Linked DNA regions of Homo sapiens: all the other regions are reported to be linked to region 1. Evidence: microRNA targets listed by miRTarBase, many of them from high-throughput screens and not tested one by one. Region 1 holds a microRNA gene; each other region holds the end of a gene's coding sequence.
Evidence for each region. Region 1 holds the annotated microRNA hsa-miR-892c-3p (CACUGUUUCCUUUCUGAGUGGA, at 2,656-2,677, shown strand). A microRNA usually pairs through its seed, bases 2 to 8, with sites in the 3' UTR of a target mRNA and lowers its output. Matches are read on the target gene's strand: a 7mer-m8 pairs with bases 2 to 8, a 7mer-A1 pairs with bases 2 to 7 and ends in A, and an 8mer does both.

Region 1 (4,259 bases):
AACTGTGCAAGATAGGGCAGTACCTCCACAATCAGCCATGCTGTGTGCAGTGCCCTGCCCAGAAATGTGTCAGTCGCCCAGATTATATGTCACTAGTTCCTTTCCAGGTAGAGTAAGGCACACCAAGTATAAGTTTGTAGTGGCCTTTGGACCCATGATAGTGTAGAGTTGCAAGAGCCTTCAGGTACCTTCCCTGAGACCAGCAGATCTTAGTTGGCCATGTGGACCTCAGGCATCCTCAAGATAAGTTAAGTGGCTTGTCCCTAACAACATGAGCACCTACAGGTTATAGATCAGAAAGGCAAGATGAAGATAATTCCTACTAGAAAAATAGAAAATGGGAACAATCTTGCTCTCTTCTGGTCCTGGCAATCATCCAGATAAACATAGAGTAGGTGAGAGATTCCTCACTTAGGGAGGCATATACCTTGGAGGGCAGTGGGCTAGACATGATCCAGGACTGATGAATAAATAAGTTCAGGGTTCAGACATCATGCTGTGCTCAGAGGAGTGATGGAAGCTACAGGTGGAGAACACGCAAGATGCGACAGCACCTCCACAATTAGCCATGTTGTGGGCAGTGCTCTACTCAAAAAGCTGTCAGTCACTTAGATTACATGTGACTGACACCTCTTTGGGTGAAGGAAGGCTCACCAAGTACACTTTTGTGGTGGTCCTCAGACTGGTGAGGGGGTAGACCTGCAAGCAACTTGAGCTGCCTTCATTGATCCCAGGAGAACCTTGGAAACCACCTGGAATTCAGGCATCGTCAAGATGATCATTTCTAACAACGTGAGCACCTACAAATTAGAGAAGGCAATGACAGAAAAGATAGTTACTTCCTAAAAGGAGAAAACAGGAACAATCTTTTCTTGTCTTGGCCATCATCCAGGTGAACATAAATCAGATAAGAAGGTCGTCACTGAGGCAGGCATGCCAAGTTGGAGGGCAGTGGGCTGGAAATTCTCTAGGAATTAAGATTAAGTTCAGGGTTCAGGCATCCTGCTGTGTTGAGTGGGGTGATGAAAGCTGCAGTGCACGATGGTGGATGATGGGGCAGCACCTCTACAATCAGACATGCTGTGGGAAGTGCCCTACTTGGAAAGGCATCAGTTGCTTAGATTACATGTAACTATTCCCTTTCTGAGTAGAGTAAGTCTTACCAAGTACAAGTTCATGGTGACCTTCGGACAGGTGATGCAGTGGAGTTGCTGGAGGCTTTAGTTGTCTTCAGTAAGGCCGGGAGATCCTAGCTGGCCACCTGAACCTTAGGTGTTCTCAAGGTGATTTCAATGATGCATTTCTAACAATGGAAATACCTATTTTTCAGAGAATAGAAAGATAGAAGAAATGAAGATACTTCCTAATAGAAGAACAGAAAACGAGCTTGTTCTCTCATGGTCCTGGCAACCATCTGGGCAAATATGGAGCAGTGAGCATGTCTCATTGAGTGAGACATGCGTCATGGAGGGCAGCAGACTGGACATTCTCCTGGACGGGGGTTGACCTTGCAAGATGGGCCAGCACCTCCGCTATCAGACATGCTGTGTGCAGTGTCCTACTTAGAAATGTGCCAGTTTCCTAGATTATACATCACTGGTTTCTTCCTTGGTAGTGTAAGGCTCAACAAGTATAAGTTTGTAGTGGCCTTTGGACCCATGATAGGGTGGAGTTTCAAGAGCCTTGAGGTACCTTTCCTGATACCAGGAGACCTTAGTTGGCCATGTGGACCTCAGGCATCGTCGAGATATTCTAAATCGTCTGTCCCTAACAACATGAACACATGCAGGTTATAGATGAGAAAGACAAGATGAAGATAATTCCTACTAGAAAAATAGAATGAGAACAATCTTGCTTTCTCCTGGTCTTGGCGATCACCCAGGTAAACATAGAGCAGGTGAGGGGTTCCTCATTTAGGGAGGCATGTACATTGGAGGGCAGTGGGTTAGACATGATCCAGGACTGTTGAATAAATAAATTCAGGGTTCAGGCATCATGCTGTGCTCAGGAGTGATGGAAGCTACAGGGGGAGAACATGCAAGATGGGACAGCACCCCCACAATTAGCCATGTTGTGGGCAGTGCCCTACTCCAAAAGGGGTCAGTCACTTAGATTAGATGTTTCCAGCTCCTTTCTGGGTAGAGCAAGATTCTCCAGGTACAATTTTGTGATGGCGTTCAGATTGGTGAGGAGACAGACCTGCAAGCACCTTCAACTGCCTTCATTGATCCCAGGAGAGATTTGGAAGCCACCTGGAACTCAGGGATCCTCAAGATGATTTTAATGATCCATTTCTAACAATGTGAGCACCTACAGGTTAGATAAGGTAATAATAGAAGAGATAAAGATACTTCCTAAAAGAAGAAGAGAGAACGGGAACAAGATTTTTTTTCTTCTCGTCTTGGCCATCATCCAGGGAAACATAAATCAAGTGAGAAGGTCTTCATTGAGGCAGGCATGCCAAGTTGGAGGGCAGTGGGCTGGAACTTCTCTAGGACTTAATAAATGTGTTCAGGGCTCAGGCAGCCTGCTGTGTTGAGGGGAGTGATGAAACCTGCAGTGCGTGATGGTGGGTGATGGGGCAGCACCTCCACTATCAGTCGTGCTGTGGGCAGTGCCCTATTCAGAAAGGTGCCAGTCACTTAGATTACATGTCACTGTTTCCTTTCTGAGTGGAGTAGGGCTTACCAAGTACAAGTGTGTGGTGGTCTTCAGACAGGCGATGAGTTGGAGTTGCTGGAGCCCTAAGTTGTCTTCAATGATGCCAGGAGATCCTAGCTGGCCACCTGAACCTCAGACATCCTCTAGATGATTTCAGTGGTTCATTCCTAATAATGAGAATACCTATATGATAGAGAAGAGAAGGATAGAAGACGTGAAGATACTTCCTAATAGAAGAACAGAAAAACAAGCTTGTTCTCTCGTGGTCCTGGCAACCATCTGGGTAAACATGAAGCCAAGTGAGAGTGCTCTTGCTGAGGGAAACATACATGATGGAGGGCAGTGGGCTGGACATTCTCTAGGATGGGGATTCACATTGCACGATGGAGTAGCCCCTCCCCATTCGTCCATAATATGTTCCAGAAAGGTGCCAGTCACTTAGATTATATGTAACTAGTTCCTCTCTGAGTGGACTAAGGCTTACCAAGTACAAGCATATAGTTGCCTGTAGACCCCTGATGTGGAGTTCCAAGGGCCTTGAGCTGCCTTCCCTGATGCCAGGAGATCCTATTTGGCCACATGGACCTCAGGCATCCTCAAGATAATTCTACTGGTGCATTCCTAATGATGTAGACTCCATCATGTTAAAGAAGAAAGTGATAGAAGAGATGAAGATACTTCCTAGTTGAAGAATAGAAAACGGGAACAAGCTTGTTTTCTCCTGGTCTGGGCAATCATCCAGGTAAACATAGAGCAGGTGAGAGGGCACTGAGGGAGACATGCAAGTTGGGGGCTTGTGGGCTGGGCATTATTTTGAACTGATGAATAAATAAGTTCAGGATTCAGGCATCATACCGTGCTCAGAGGAGTGATGAAAGCTGCAGGGTATGAAAATGCAAGATGGGGCAGCACTTCCCCTTTCGACCATGCTGTGTTCAGGGCTATTCCCAGAAAGGTGTCTGATATGGTTTGGCTGTGTCCCCACCCAAATCTCACCTTGAATCATAGTTCCCATAATCCCCATGTGTCATGGGAGGGACCCAGTGGGAGGTAATTGAATCATGGGGGCGGTTACTCCCATGCTGCTGATCTCATGATAGTGAGTTCTCACAAGATCTGATGGTTTTATAAGGGGCTTTCACCCGCTTTGCTCAACACTTCTCATTCCTGCCGCCATGTAAAGAAGGACGTGTTTGCTTCCCCTTCTACCGTAATTGCAAGTTTCCTGAGGTTTCCCCAGCCATGCTGAACTGTGAGTCAATTAAACCTCTTTTTTCAATAGAAATTACCCAGTCTTTGGTATGTCTTTATTAGCAGCATGACAATTGACTAATAGAGTGCCAGTAACTTAGATTACATGTAATTGGTTTTTTCTCTGGGTGGAATAAGAGTCACGAAGTACAAGTTTGTGGTGGCCCTCAGACTGGTGAGGGTATAGAGTTACAGGCACCTTGAGATGTCCTCATTGATCTCAGGAGATCCTTGGTGGTTAGCTAGAACTCAGTCATCCTCAAAATAAGTTTCATGGTCGTTTGCTACAATGTGAACACCTACGGGATACAGAAGATAAAGATATTTCCCAAAAGAAGAAGCGAAAT
Region 2 (4,000 bases), not on the chromosome of region 1:
TTTCAGCTTTATGATGGTGCAAAAGTGATGTGCATTCAGAAGAAACTGAGCATCAAGTACCCATGCAACCATTCTGTTTTTTACTTTCAGTGCAGTGTTCACTAACTTGATAAATAAAATAGAAAATAATAATAAAATGCAGTTTAACGTGTATGAGATACACAACACTTTATTATAAAATAATCTTTGTGTTGTTAGATGCTTTTGCTCAACTGTAGGCTAATGTAAGTGTTCTGATCGTGTTTTACGTAGGCTAGGCTAAGCTATGATGTTTGCTAGGTTAGGTGTATTAAATATATTTTTGACTTATGTATTTTCAACATAAGCTGGGTTTATTGGGATGTAACCCCATCGTAAGTTGAGGAACATCTATTCTATGAGTGGTGTACACAATATTACTTTCACACAGAGTGAAGACTAAAATATTTATGATGCCTATGTCTTTTTGGGGGAGAATTGTTAAATTTTGTTTGTTTGTTTTGTCCTCAACAGTCAACGACAACACAAACAGCAGAGTGGTCCTTTGGTCCTTCTTTGAAGCTCTTGTTCTAGTTGCCATGACATTGGGACAGATCTACTACCTGAAGAGATTTTTTGAAGTCCGGAGAGTTGTTTAAAAAGCCTCTTCCTGATGATCCCAACTCAGAATTCACTGTTTACCAAACACCTTGGTCATAATAATGTCATTAGTTTCTCCATTTTTATTTTCTGAACTGTACATTCACAACTTATGTTTCTTTGAGATTAATAGATATTGGGGGAAAAACGCCTTTTTAGGAAAATTATAGTGAAAATTTGACAGTTGATTGGCATAATTTCTTGTTTGAATGCTGCCTCCATTATATAGGTCCTTCCAGGAACTCAAACACTGTAAGTGAAATATGGGAGTATAGTTTTTATTATTTCTTCTTTTCCTTTTGTTTTCATAATATAATGCAGTTTGTTCAGGAAATCAGCACAAAGCCTGATAGTACTTTACTAAAATGACTGCATTCTTTGGATTCCTTCAGTCTATGGTTCAAGTCACTAAAGATTCATTTTTGTTGAGTCCTTATGAGAAACAGCAGTATGAATCTTGACGGTTTCTGCCCGTCCTAATGGCAGAGCTCTCTGACTTGGGTGTATGCTGCCAGGCTGGGTACTTTCATACTTTGTTTTCTTGTTTTGCTTTAAAACTACGACTCAGCATACATTTTCCCACATACATTTTTACATTGTACCTTAGGACTCAGTCATCTCCACTTAAATTGATGACACAAGCAGCTAATAACCATTTCTGGGTTTCTGCCTAACCCCCTAATTGTCTGTTAAAGCCAATTCTCTGGGTGTCCCAGTGAGTGGTGGCTTTTTTTCTTTCCACATTGGCACATTCACTTCTCCCACTCTTGGCATGTAAGAAATAAGCATTTACATAATTGGAAAAATCTGGATTTCTGATGCCAAAGGGTTAAAGCTTCTTGGATTTCATTTCATTGATATACAGCCACTATTTTATTTTTGATCAGTGGCCTTTGGGCCACTGTTCAGGGTACTGACCATCAGTGTCAGCATTAGGGTTTTGGTTTTTGTTTCTTTTGGGTCTTTCTTTTTTGGCACATGTGAATCTTGTTTTGTGTAAAATGAAATTACTTTCTCTTGTTCTCTGATGATGGGTTTAAAATTAAAAGAGCATCCGGTTTTGGTATGGGGATGATCCAGGATTATGTTGTGACTGATACATATTAGTTACTTGTGCTTTTTTTTTTTTTTTTGGATCTTTGCAAGGGCAAAACTACAAGTAACGAGTTTTATATAATTAATTTAAATTTGTTACAGGTTTTCATGTTCAGGATAAACCATACTTCCACCTTGGGTGAGAACACTTGCAACAGTTTATTAATGAGGTGACTTTCACCTTAGGACAACTGTTGCATGCCAAGTTTTTTGTGTGTGTGAAACACTTCAAAACTGATTTAAAAGATGTAAATTTAAAATTGGTTGTATCTAATATGCCCCAGGTTCGGTAAATAAACAATTCTTTTTAAAAACAGTATTCTGTGTTTTATATATTGACAGCTAATCCACATTTTTTACACACCAACTTTCTGTTCTTATTTGACATGAGACATGTTCATGTTTTCTGAGTATTTATACCTATTACGTCTGTTACTTTTTAATTCTATAAACTTGAGGATAGTGAATGGTACCAAGTTTTAGTTTCTGCGTAGGTTTTCCAGTGTGGCTTCTCTGATGGATCAGTGCTAAAATCTTAAGTATTTTTCTATTTGGGAAAAAAGGGTTGAATTATTTTCACTTGCCCACGTAGTTTATGAATGTGGGAAATAGCTTCAAAGACAGATTAAATGATTTGCCCAAGGCCACAGAAAAGAGTGAAAGGTGGAACCGGAGACTAGATCACCACCTGTAGAAACTGTTCTTCCTCTGTGAAACTAACGGCCTGCTGGTAATAAAAGTAGCTACCATTTCTTGAGTACTGTGTAATGTCTCGATCTAGTACTAAGCACTTTACTTGGTCTGTCTTATTCATGCTTCAAAACTGCCATTACCTTGGGTAAAACCATTTTGGAAGTGAGGAGGAAAACAGGCTTGGAAAGGGTCTTAAGGTCAGAAAACTAGTAGGTAGTAGAGCCCAGAAGACACACACAGATATGTAATTTCCCTGTGCCTTTGCTTTCAGAACTGTCTGTGAAGTCTCCCACCTTTTCTTTTTTTGGAGACAGGATCTCACTCTGTTCCCAGGTTGGCTTGATCTCTGCTCACTGAAGCCTCAACCTCCCGGGCTCAAGTGATCCTACCACCTCAGCTCTCCAAGTAGCTGGGACTACATTTTTTGTTTTTTAAAGACAGGGTCTTGCTTTGTTACCTGGACTGGAGTGCAGTGGCACAAACATGGCTCACTGGAGCCTTAACCTCTCAAGTGATCCTCTCATCTCAGCCTCCCGAGTAGCTGGGACCACAGGCATGCACCACCACGCCTAGCTAATTAAAAAATTATTTTTGTAGAGGCAGAGTCTCCTGTATGTTGCCCAGGCTGGCCTCATTCTCCTGGGCTCAAGTGATCCTCCTGCCTCAGCCTCCCAAAGTGTTGGGATTGCAGACATGAGCCACCGTGCCTAGCCGAAGTCCCATTTTATAAAAGTTGTCAAAGGTGTTTTGAGAATGTGATGATCATTTCACTGAAAATGTGGCTTCAGGCTGTTGTCTTTTACTTAATTTGAGATGACTGCAGTCTGCATGAGTTGTATTCCCATTTATCAATCCCACAAATATTTGAGTGATTGCTGTGTGCTACAGTGATAGTCCTTGGGATAAAGAAGATAGAGAAAAGACCCTATTAGTGTGGGTTTTACATTTTGGTGGCAGAGATGAACCTAATAAGTTTTGTGTGTGTGTGTGTGTGTTTGTGTGTGTGTGGCGAGAAAGAGATAATGGTAAATGCTAAGAAGGGAACATAAATCAAGGTAGGAGTTTCAGTGATACAGAAAGGAAGGTAACAGAAGTTGATTTCAAAAGTCCAAGTGGAATGTAAGGGAGTGTAAGGGAAAACTTCCCCTTTGCTCTCAGGTTTCTCTAAAAATTCAACTGAAAATAGGCAGATTAATAGGAGGAAAGTGATACAAATTTATTCGGTCATGCTTTTACATGACAAAGGAACCTTCAGAATTAAGACCCAAAGTTACAGGGAAAACTATTTTTATGCTTAGGCTCAACAAAATATGCACAGCTGAGTAGAAATAGGACTGGACAAGAAGGGCATGATCTAATGCTCATAGACTGAGTGGGGAAGCCCAGCGAGGCCTGTCTGGATTCTTTCCTTCTGGATAGGGGAAAGAACCCTTCCTGGAATGGGGTCTTACAACCTACCAGCAAAACAAAGGAGGTCAGATACATTTTTTTTTTTTTTGGAGACAGTCTCTCTCTGTCACCCAGGGTGGAGTGCGGTGGCGCGATCTTGGCTCACTGCAGCCTCCGCCTCCCGGGTTCAAGCAATTCTCCTGCC
Region 3 (4,000 bases), not on the chromosome of region 1:
TATAGTATGCCAAAACACGAATATTATCAATATGTTTTAAGTCAATTTGATTATGGTTGTTATATGTATATTGTTTATCTTTTTCCAATGGAGTAAACCTTTCTTTGAGAACTCTGTTAGACCTTTTATGATAAATCTTGTTCCTTCCCACTTACTGTTCAATAGTATATACTCTGTATTTGAAAAATAGATGTATATATTCTAGGTGATAAATTAAAAATGAAAGAATTTAATCATTGGAAAGTATTAAATATATATTGCTTATCTTCTCCAAGGAAGAGGAGTTCTCTCGTACCCATCCAAACTGACCTAATTCTCAAGCTGCTTCATCTTGCTAGTACTGTAGGTTCATTTGCAATTTGTAGATAATGCTCCTTCAGGATTGGCTTTTGTAAATTTCTGTTAGAAGCTGGTTTCTGCATTTTGATTTTTGTGTATTTGGATACATTTTCATATAGGTTGCAGAGAAATCCATGAGTTAAAAAATTATTTTTCCTGTTTTATTTCTGCATGAACCTAAGTCACATTGACCCAGTAATTGATATATGTGTGATTATTGCAATTAAGTATAAGAAGGTAGAATATATAGTTTTATTAGACAGATGCTTCTGAAATATTAATTTTGTATGTTTTTACTATATCCTTTTTGTGTATCTACAGATACAACAGACATGCAAGAGAATGGACTCAGAAATATGCAATGTAAAAATCAAAAACATTTTCATATATACCAGAGTACTGTAAAATCTAGGTTTTTTTCAACATTAGCAGTAAATTGAGCACTGTTTACTGTTTCATTGTACCATGAAACCATTTGATTTTTACCCATTTTAAATGTGTTTCTGAAGCAAGACAAAACAAACTTCCAAAAATACCCTTAAGACTGTGATGAGAGCATTTATCATTTTGTATGCATTGAGAAAGACATTTATTATGGTTTTTAAGATACTTGGACATCTGCATCTTCAGCTTACAAGATCTACAATGCAGCTGAAAAGCAACCAAATTATTTTTTGCTGAAACTAGATGTTTTTACATGAGAAATACTGTATGTGTTGTCTAAGATGTCAGTTTTATAAATCTGTATTCAGATTTCATTCTTTGTTAGCTCACTTTATAATTTGTATTTTTTTACTGTATAGACTAAATATATTCTATTTACATGTATGTCAACTCATTACTTTTTTCCTGTGAACAGTATTGAAAAACCCCAACGGCTGATAATTAAGTGAATTAACTGTGTCTCCCTTGTCTTAGGATATTCTGTAGATTGATTGCAGATTTCTTAAATCTGAAATGATCTTTACACTGTAATTCTCAGCATACTGATTATGGAGAAACACTTGTTTTGATTTTGTTATACTTGACTTAACTTTATTGCAATGTGAATTAATTGCACTGCTAAGTAGGAAGATGTGTAACTTTTATTTGTTGCTATTCACATTTGAATTTTTTCCTGTATAGGCAATATTATATTGACACCTTTTACAGATCTTACTGTAGCTTTTTCCATATAAATAAAATGCTTTTTCTACTATTTGTCTTGATTACTTAAAAAAATAAAAATATAAGTAAGGATCAAAACTCTAAAATTTTGCATGAAAATTACATCCAAATTGTGAAAATCAGATCTATTTTGTTTGCCATTAGTCACCATTAGTTATATAAATTTTATTGTTTTAGGTTAGTATCTCTTTACTAAATTGTCAGTCTATAAGATAATATATGTTGATCCCTTGCTGTAGAGGAGAATTTAGAGTAATTTGGGGTTTGTCTTGGATTATATCTAAATGGATTATTTGTTAAAAGTACTGAAATGAGTATAAGGCAGTATCACCCATCCAAAAGAAAGGTCTTTATAGACCTGCACAGTCACTAGATTAATTCATTAAAATGCCCCCACCCTGATGTAATTGACATTACATTTCTTAACATTTTAAAATCTAGAATTTCTAAAATGGAATTTAATGCCATCACAATTTGAAAAACTTTTTTTTTTTTTTTACTATAGAAGTTACAAAGGAAGTTCTAAAATTATGCCTCCCTCTGTTTTTATAAGTTGCCATCGAAAAGTGATTTAAATAAGCAGGTTATCTTTATAGATTTTAAAGAAAACTAGAAAGTTTTAATGTTTTAACTTGGGGAAAAATACATCTCTTTAATGTTTAGCATGCTTGTCAACCTTGAGTGAGTGTCATTTTTAAGAACAGTTGTAGCCCTTCTGATTATTGCAGTAGCTGTAGAAGTATGTAAGAATATGTGATGGGTGTAGTCATTAGCAAAGCATTTAAATCACTTGAGTATTTTGTCATGGTTCATTATTATTAAAGCACAAAATAACCTATTGTTAGAAAATATGTGTTTTTATAAATGAATGTAAAATAATTAAATGAATTGTGAAATGGATGTTTAAGAAAATATAGGCTTAAAAAGTAAATCTATAAAATGATGTCTTAAAACAGCCATATCATGAAAAATTCTACTTAGCTATATTATTATAAGCTACATTTGCCCTGAATTTGAACACTCAACATCACTAGATTTAAATATTTAGTATATTTTGATAGTAAAGGGTTTTGTTTCTTGAATATCTTCACTTTAAACAAAAAAAAAAAACAACTTTCATTTGTGTGGCATTTATTTTTGGAAGTGTCTTCTTTTTTTTCTTTATTAAAGTTTTTGAAACTTGCCTAACTTGTTTGCCTTTGCTTACATCTGGATTGTACTGGACTTGAGGAGTAAGCAGAAGTTCTCATAATTAGCTAAAAACCTTGAGTTCCATAGTGGCGTCATGATCGGTCAGAACACCATTTTGGGTATATTATTTTTGCTTAACTCTAACAAGGAGAACATCAGTTACCTTTTAAAACTGTAGAATAAAAGTCAGGGCCTTTTGTGGATTAAGCATTAATTTAAGGACTTCCTTGGAGTGAGAGAAATAGGTAGTCTTTTGGGGATTTAGGATCCCACTTCTTGAAGTTGCATAGTTGAAAACCATGTTCAAATTGGATTCTGAACGCTTATAACTGCCATATACAGCAGTTACCCACATCAGTGACATGGGTTGTAAGGGGCAGCCTCACCACCATCCTCCAACTATCTCAAAAGCGTACAATTCCTGAAGTACAAGCTTTACATATATGCCTCCGTCAACCTTATTTATTAATTTTTGCATTATTTCCCTGTTTCACCCCTTTTAAACGCTGATAGGGAAAATTAAAAATTATAAATGAACTGCATATCAAGGACAACTCTAAGAGTTAACGTTCAAAAGTTACTTTTCATAAGAAAAAAATAATACATTGCAGTTTTAAATTTTTCTTATTTATCACAGTGATCTATCTAATGATTCAGTCATTGATGTTTGTCAAGATCCTGCTCTCCCACAGTTCTGTATTTTTTAAATGGAGAGATTAAGGAAATTAATTTTCCTCCCAAATTAAAAGAAATTATTGGTCATGAAACTATATCATGTCTGTTTATTGGTAGTCATTTTGAACTGTACAAAAGCCCAGCCCAGTTGATAATGCTTTAAAATTTGAGCTCTGCAGTAGAATCATCAGTCCTGTTACTCTATCTTCTTAGGACCAGCCATGAAAAATGTGATCAGTGCTTTAGCCATGGCCATAAAAACAGAGCTTCATTGTATTCAGATTGTTGAAAGTACTGTTTATCTTTGTTTGTTTCAGTCTTTTAAGTGATTATTACTACAATAAAAAATCTGATTTTTAAAAAATTAGTTTTATCACTTTTCAGCTGTAAAGTAGGATTTTCACAATTTTTTTTTCTTTAAAGCAGAGGCTTAATCACAATTTAATAGCTGTAAAATGTAATGCAGATTATTTATGAAAGGTCTTATAATGCTTCTCTTTTATTCTGATGGTTGTGTTGCACAAATAGGGCAGCAGGTAGAGTCTCATCTAATTTCACTTACAAAAGTTCTTATAGGTAGATAACTAGTCATTTCTACTCTCTCTGTTTTTGAACTGAGTAATGTGTC
Region 4 (4,000 bases), not on the chromosome of region 1:
ACTTTGGAGGAAGGTGCTTGGAATAAGACATGAGCATTTTAAAAGAAAAAAAAATGAAGAAAGCAAACTACACATAGAATGTAACCCAGTAAATAGATTCAATGCAAAGTTAAGAAAACATAGTCATGGGGAGAAGATTTCACCCATTTGGAAAAAATCAGTTTATCGTTCTAAAATAAAGCTTTGATCTACAGGTAGTTGAACCTCAAATCATGGTTTGGACAGAAGAGCTACTCACACACACATCATGTAAAAGTACGAGTGCTGTACTCAGGTGGCACTAACTGGCTGCAGATGTCACTCCAAAGACACCAATGACTGAGTACGTGCAAAGGTTACACTGAATTGGTCACCAGGGTGGGATAGTGGGGTGGGGAGGCCTCTTCCTATTTTGCACTTTGCATTGTCAAAGTCACAATAAGAAACCGGACTGCAGTCTGCGTGGAGCAACAATACCAACTTTGGAGATAAAGGCCAGATGGGAAAGTTAATTTCTACAAAATTAACAAACACTTGTATCTGCTCAGTGCTTCACAACTTTCAAGGCTTTTCTCAACCTCCTGATGACCAGGCATGCAGGCTGGCCAAGTGGCTCCCCAAGCTGACTCATCCCTCATCACACAGGGAGGGGCCTGCAATCAGGGCCCACAGAGCTCCAGGGTCCGGTTTTTGCCTTTCCTTTTTGACAGAGTCACTCTGTCGCCCAGGCTGAAGTGCAGTGGCACAATCTCAGCTCACTGCAACCTCCACCTCCTGGGTTCAAGCAATTCTCCTGCCTCAGCCTCCCAAGTAACTGGGATTACAGGTGCCTGCCACCATGCCCAGCTAATTTTTTGTATTTTTAGTAGAGATGGGGTTTCATCATGTTGGCCAGGCTGGTCTCAAACTGCTGGCCTCAAGTGATCCGCCTGCCTCGGCCTCCCCAAAGTGCTGGGATTACAGGCATGAGCCACCACACGCCACCTTCACCTCTCCTTCTTGCATCCCTCTAACCAAAGGAGTGCTCCTAGAGAAATCAAGTTTATTTTCTAAACACCAGTGAAAGCAAAATCCAGTAGGAAATACCTTGCTTCAGCGTGGCATATCTTAAGTGGACCAAAAGGGGTGGTAGGATAATTTTTTTACAAATTTGCTTTAAATTCTACTTTGAAATTTAGAATTTGATTTTTTTCCCCTCCATTTGCAGAATTTAACACCATTTAACACGAACCCAAGGCAGGTTGAGAGCGGAGATGTAAACATTTTCAACAGTAGCGTGGACTTTACGGCTTTCTACATCCCCATGTGGGTTGAGGCTGCAACTGGTTTTGGGGAGTGGGGGGCAGAGCAGGGAGAAGGCGTTAACTGCCAGATGGGACAGGGCAGCAGCCAAGCCCCACAGCCCAGCTGCAAAGGGCTGTTCACGGGGCACACGTGGGAGGTACCCAGTTTGGCTCTTTCCCATCCCTGATCTGAAAAAGGAACTCCACTGACTGATAAAATTCTTCATCGCTATTAGGGCAAAATCTACTCCCCAAGGCACTGTGTGCATGGTCCCAAGATGGAAATTCTCCACGTGTTACTTCCTAGGCAGTAGCACCACTCAAAAGAATCCAGGCCTGCGCCTCCTCGGTAAGATGCACCACGCTGACCGTGATGGGTGGCGGCAGGTCAGGACCCGGCTCACTGAAATGCAAACATACATGAGCTTCCTGCTCATTTTTAAAGACAAGCTCCGGTGAGGGCTCCAAATCAGAGACAGTGCAGCTCGTCTCGTCGGTATTCCCTTGCACGGCAGCCTGGCAGAGCACCAAATGGCACAGCTAGGGAAAACGGGCTTGTATTTTCTCTGAGCGGCAATCTGACTCGGCACACACCATTTCAGAAAGCGAGGCTGCGAAGCCTGTGTTCTCGGGTGACGCAGAGCAGACAAGGATGCAGAATGGCTTCTGGAGAGGGGTCTTCCGACTCGGGCATGAGGGTCCAGGTCAGACCTCAGCCGCAGGGCCCTAGCAGATAGGCCTGGCTCTTGTCACATGCAGTGAGAAGCTGTGACATGAGAATTAATGGTTGGGACAAGACAGGGACAAAGACTGGAGACATGCTTCCCTAGACTGCACAGGGAAACACAGGAGATGAGATTCAGTCAAAACACACATAGATCACGTTACCTGAAGTGCCTGAGTTAAAAGGCTGATGCAGAAATAAGTCCTAGGATGAAGGTAGGATTTATCCCAAACACCTGCCCCACAAGTCGCCAAATGCTGCCTATCAAGGGCTTCTAAGTGCTGACCGGGGAAGGCAGGCATTCACATCACTCACAACCAGGGAAGGAAGCAGTCTCAGCAGGTTTATGCCCAGTCACCCCAATTCTACTGGGCTCCACCACCCTCCAGCGGGCGAGATCCTGCCACCCAGCATGTGTGCGTGTGTGTACACAGCAAGAGAAAATAGGCCAGGGCCAGATCTCTGGTCCTGGAATTTTGGGGAAAGACAAAGGAAAAAGGCACATGAAGGTGGCTGATTGAATTTAAAAGAAAAAAAAAGGTAGCTGCAAGTGACATATCATTATTTTGATTTTTTTAACGTACCTTTTTTCCCCCATGAAAAGAGAAATTCAAAATATAAACTTTATTATTTTACATTCAAGTGAAACTTCCATCTGGAGGGGCTAAACACAGCTGCCGGCCACATTCACTGATTTATTACTTTGTTGCCTTTTTCGTTCACCTGATGGAAGAATTCAACCCTCTTAAAAACATAACAACAACAAAAACAGCTGGAGAGTCCCAGCCGTAATACTAGGTGTAGACACGCACAAGCACACACACAAATTCAAAAACTTCTACATAGAAAAATAAAGGATAAACATTATCCATCTATTTTGTACTGTGTAATGCAACTTTTATATACATAAATTTTTTTTTTTTTTTTTTTTTTTTTTTTTTTTTTTTTTTTTTTTTACTGTTTTCAGTCACTGCAAATTTTCTTCCCTCCTCTGGGATCTAAGGATCCAGGGAGGAGGCTGCCACAGTGAAGCAGAAAAGCTACATTCTGCCCAGGGAGGAAGAGAAAAAGCAATTTCTCGCTCCCCTTCCCAAGTCCTTCCTGTCCACCACCACCTCGGATGTCCCCGCACACAGCCTTCCGGTGAGCGGCCGTGCCGTCCCCTCCTCTCTCTAAGGCATTGGGGAGCAGAGGGCCCATAGGCAGCACCCTGCAAAAAAAAAATGATCTACGTGTGAGGAGAGGGCAAGGGGCTGGATGCAGGCAGAGAATGACTTTAAGAAAAGATTCTATGATCCCTTCCTTTAGTATGGAGCTCGATTTTCCAGCTGGCGCTTGGTGAGAAAGTACTTGAAGAACTCATAGACAGACCAAGAAATGGCGGTGGAGGGCATCTGGTAGATGACACGCGCCTGGATGCCTTTGAAGTAGCCGGCCAGGCCGTTGAGCTGGTACACCGTCCGGAAGGCATTGGCCATACCCGACAGCCGGCCGCTGATGTTGGCCAGCGAGAGGGCCACGTTCTCCTGAGTGTTCAGAAGGGTCTTACAGACGTCCAGGGGGGTCGTGGCGGCCGCGGCGAGGGCCCCGGCCAGCCCGCCTGAGATGATGTGGGACTGCGGGTTGTAGGTCCGGTGGGGGTTGACCTGCTCCTGCAGGAACTCATAGGTGATGAAGTGGATGGACTGGAAGGGGATGTTCATGGTCAGCTGCGTGGTGTAGCTCCGGTAGAAGGCCCCCAACCCCTCGGTCCTCCACACCGTCCGGATGCAGCTGATTGCTGACCGGTGCTGCGAGTTGTACATCTGCAAGCGCTGCTTCACCACTGTGGTTGGAACCGCGGGGCAGGCCAGACGGACAGCCAGTGGGCAGTGGGTTGGATGTGGCCCCACCCCAGGTCGGAATGAAGCCAAGCCATAAAGAGAAACAAGCCAGTTAGACACCGGAAACAGGCGAGAGCCAGCACACACAGCCCTAGTCTGAGCAGCCGCGGAGGGCCAGCTCCCGGCAGTCC

Region 2: miRTarBase lists TMED2 as a target of hsa-miR-892c-3p. Seed matches in the 3' UTR shown: 8mer at 2,025-2,032.
Region 3: miRTarBase lists UBE2D1 as a target of hsa-miR-892c-3p. Seed matches in the 3' UTR shown: 7mer-A1 at 1,194-1,200.
Region 4: the mRNA of SLC25A37 is a reported target of hsa-miR-892c-3p. Seed matches in the 3' UTR shown: 8mer at 2,942-2,949.

Annotation. Positions count from the first base shown.
Region 1 is chrX:145,991,178-145,995,436 of GRCh38, reverse strand. It overlaps MIR892C (microRNA 892c), which reads left to right and starts at 2,611; the gene lies at 2,611-2,687. MIR890 (microRNA 890) reads left to right here and starts at 1,086; the gene lies at 1,086-1,162. MIR888 (microRNA 888) reads left to right here and starts at 577; the gene lies at 577-653.
Region 2 is chr12:123,596,113-123,600,112 of GRCh38, forward strand. It overlaps TMED2 (transmembrane p24 trafficking protein 2), which reads left to right. Exons shown (of 4, transcript NM_006815.4): 4 at 493-2,470. The coding sequence ends at 617. Among named protein-coding and RNA genes, the nearest start is that of DDX55, 4.0 kb to the right of the region's middle.
Region 3 is chr10:58,368,060-58,372,059 of GRCh38, forward strand. UBE2D1 (ubiquitin conjugating enzyme E2 D1) reads left to right here. Exons shown (of 7, transcript NM_003338.5): 7 at 661-2,689. The coding sequence ends at 706. Among named protein-coding and RNA genes, the nearest start is that of TFAM, 15 kb to the right of the region's middle.
Region 4 is chr8:23,571,146-23,575,145 of GRCh38, reverse strand. It overlaps SLC25A37 (solute carrier family 25 member 37), which reads right to left. Exons shown (of 4, transcript NM_016612.4): 4 at 1-3,811. The coding sequence ends at 3,291. Among named protein-coding and RNA genes, the nearest start is that of SLC25A37, 44 kb to the right of the region's middle.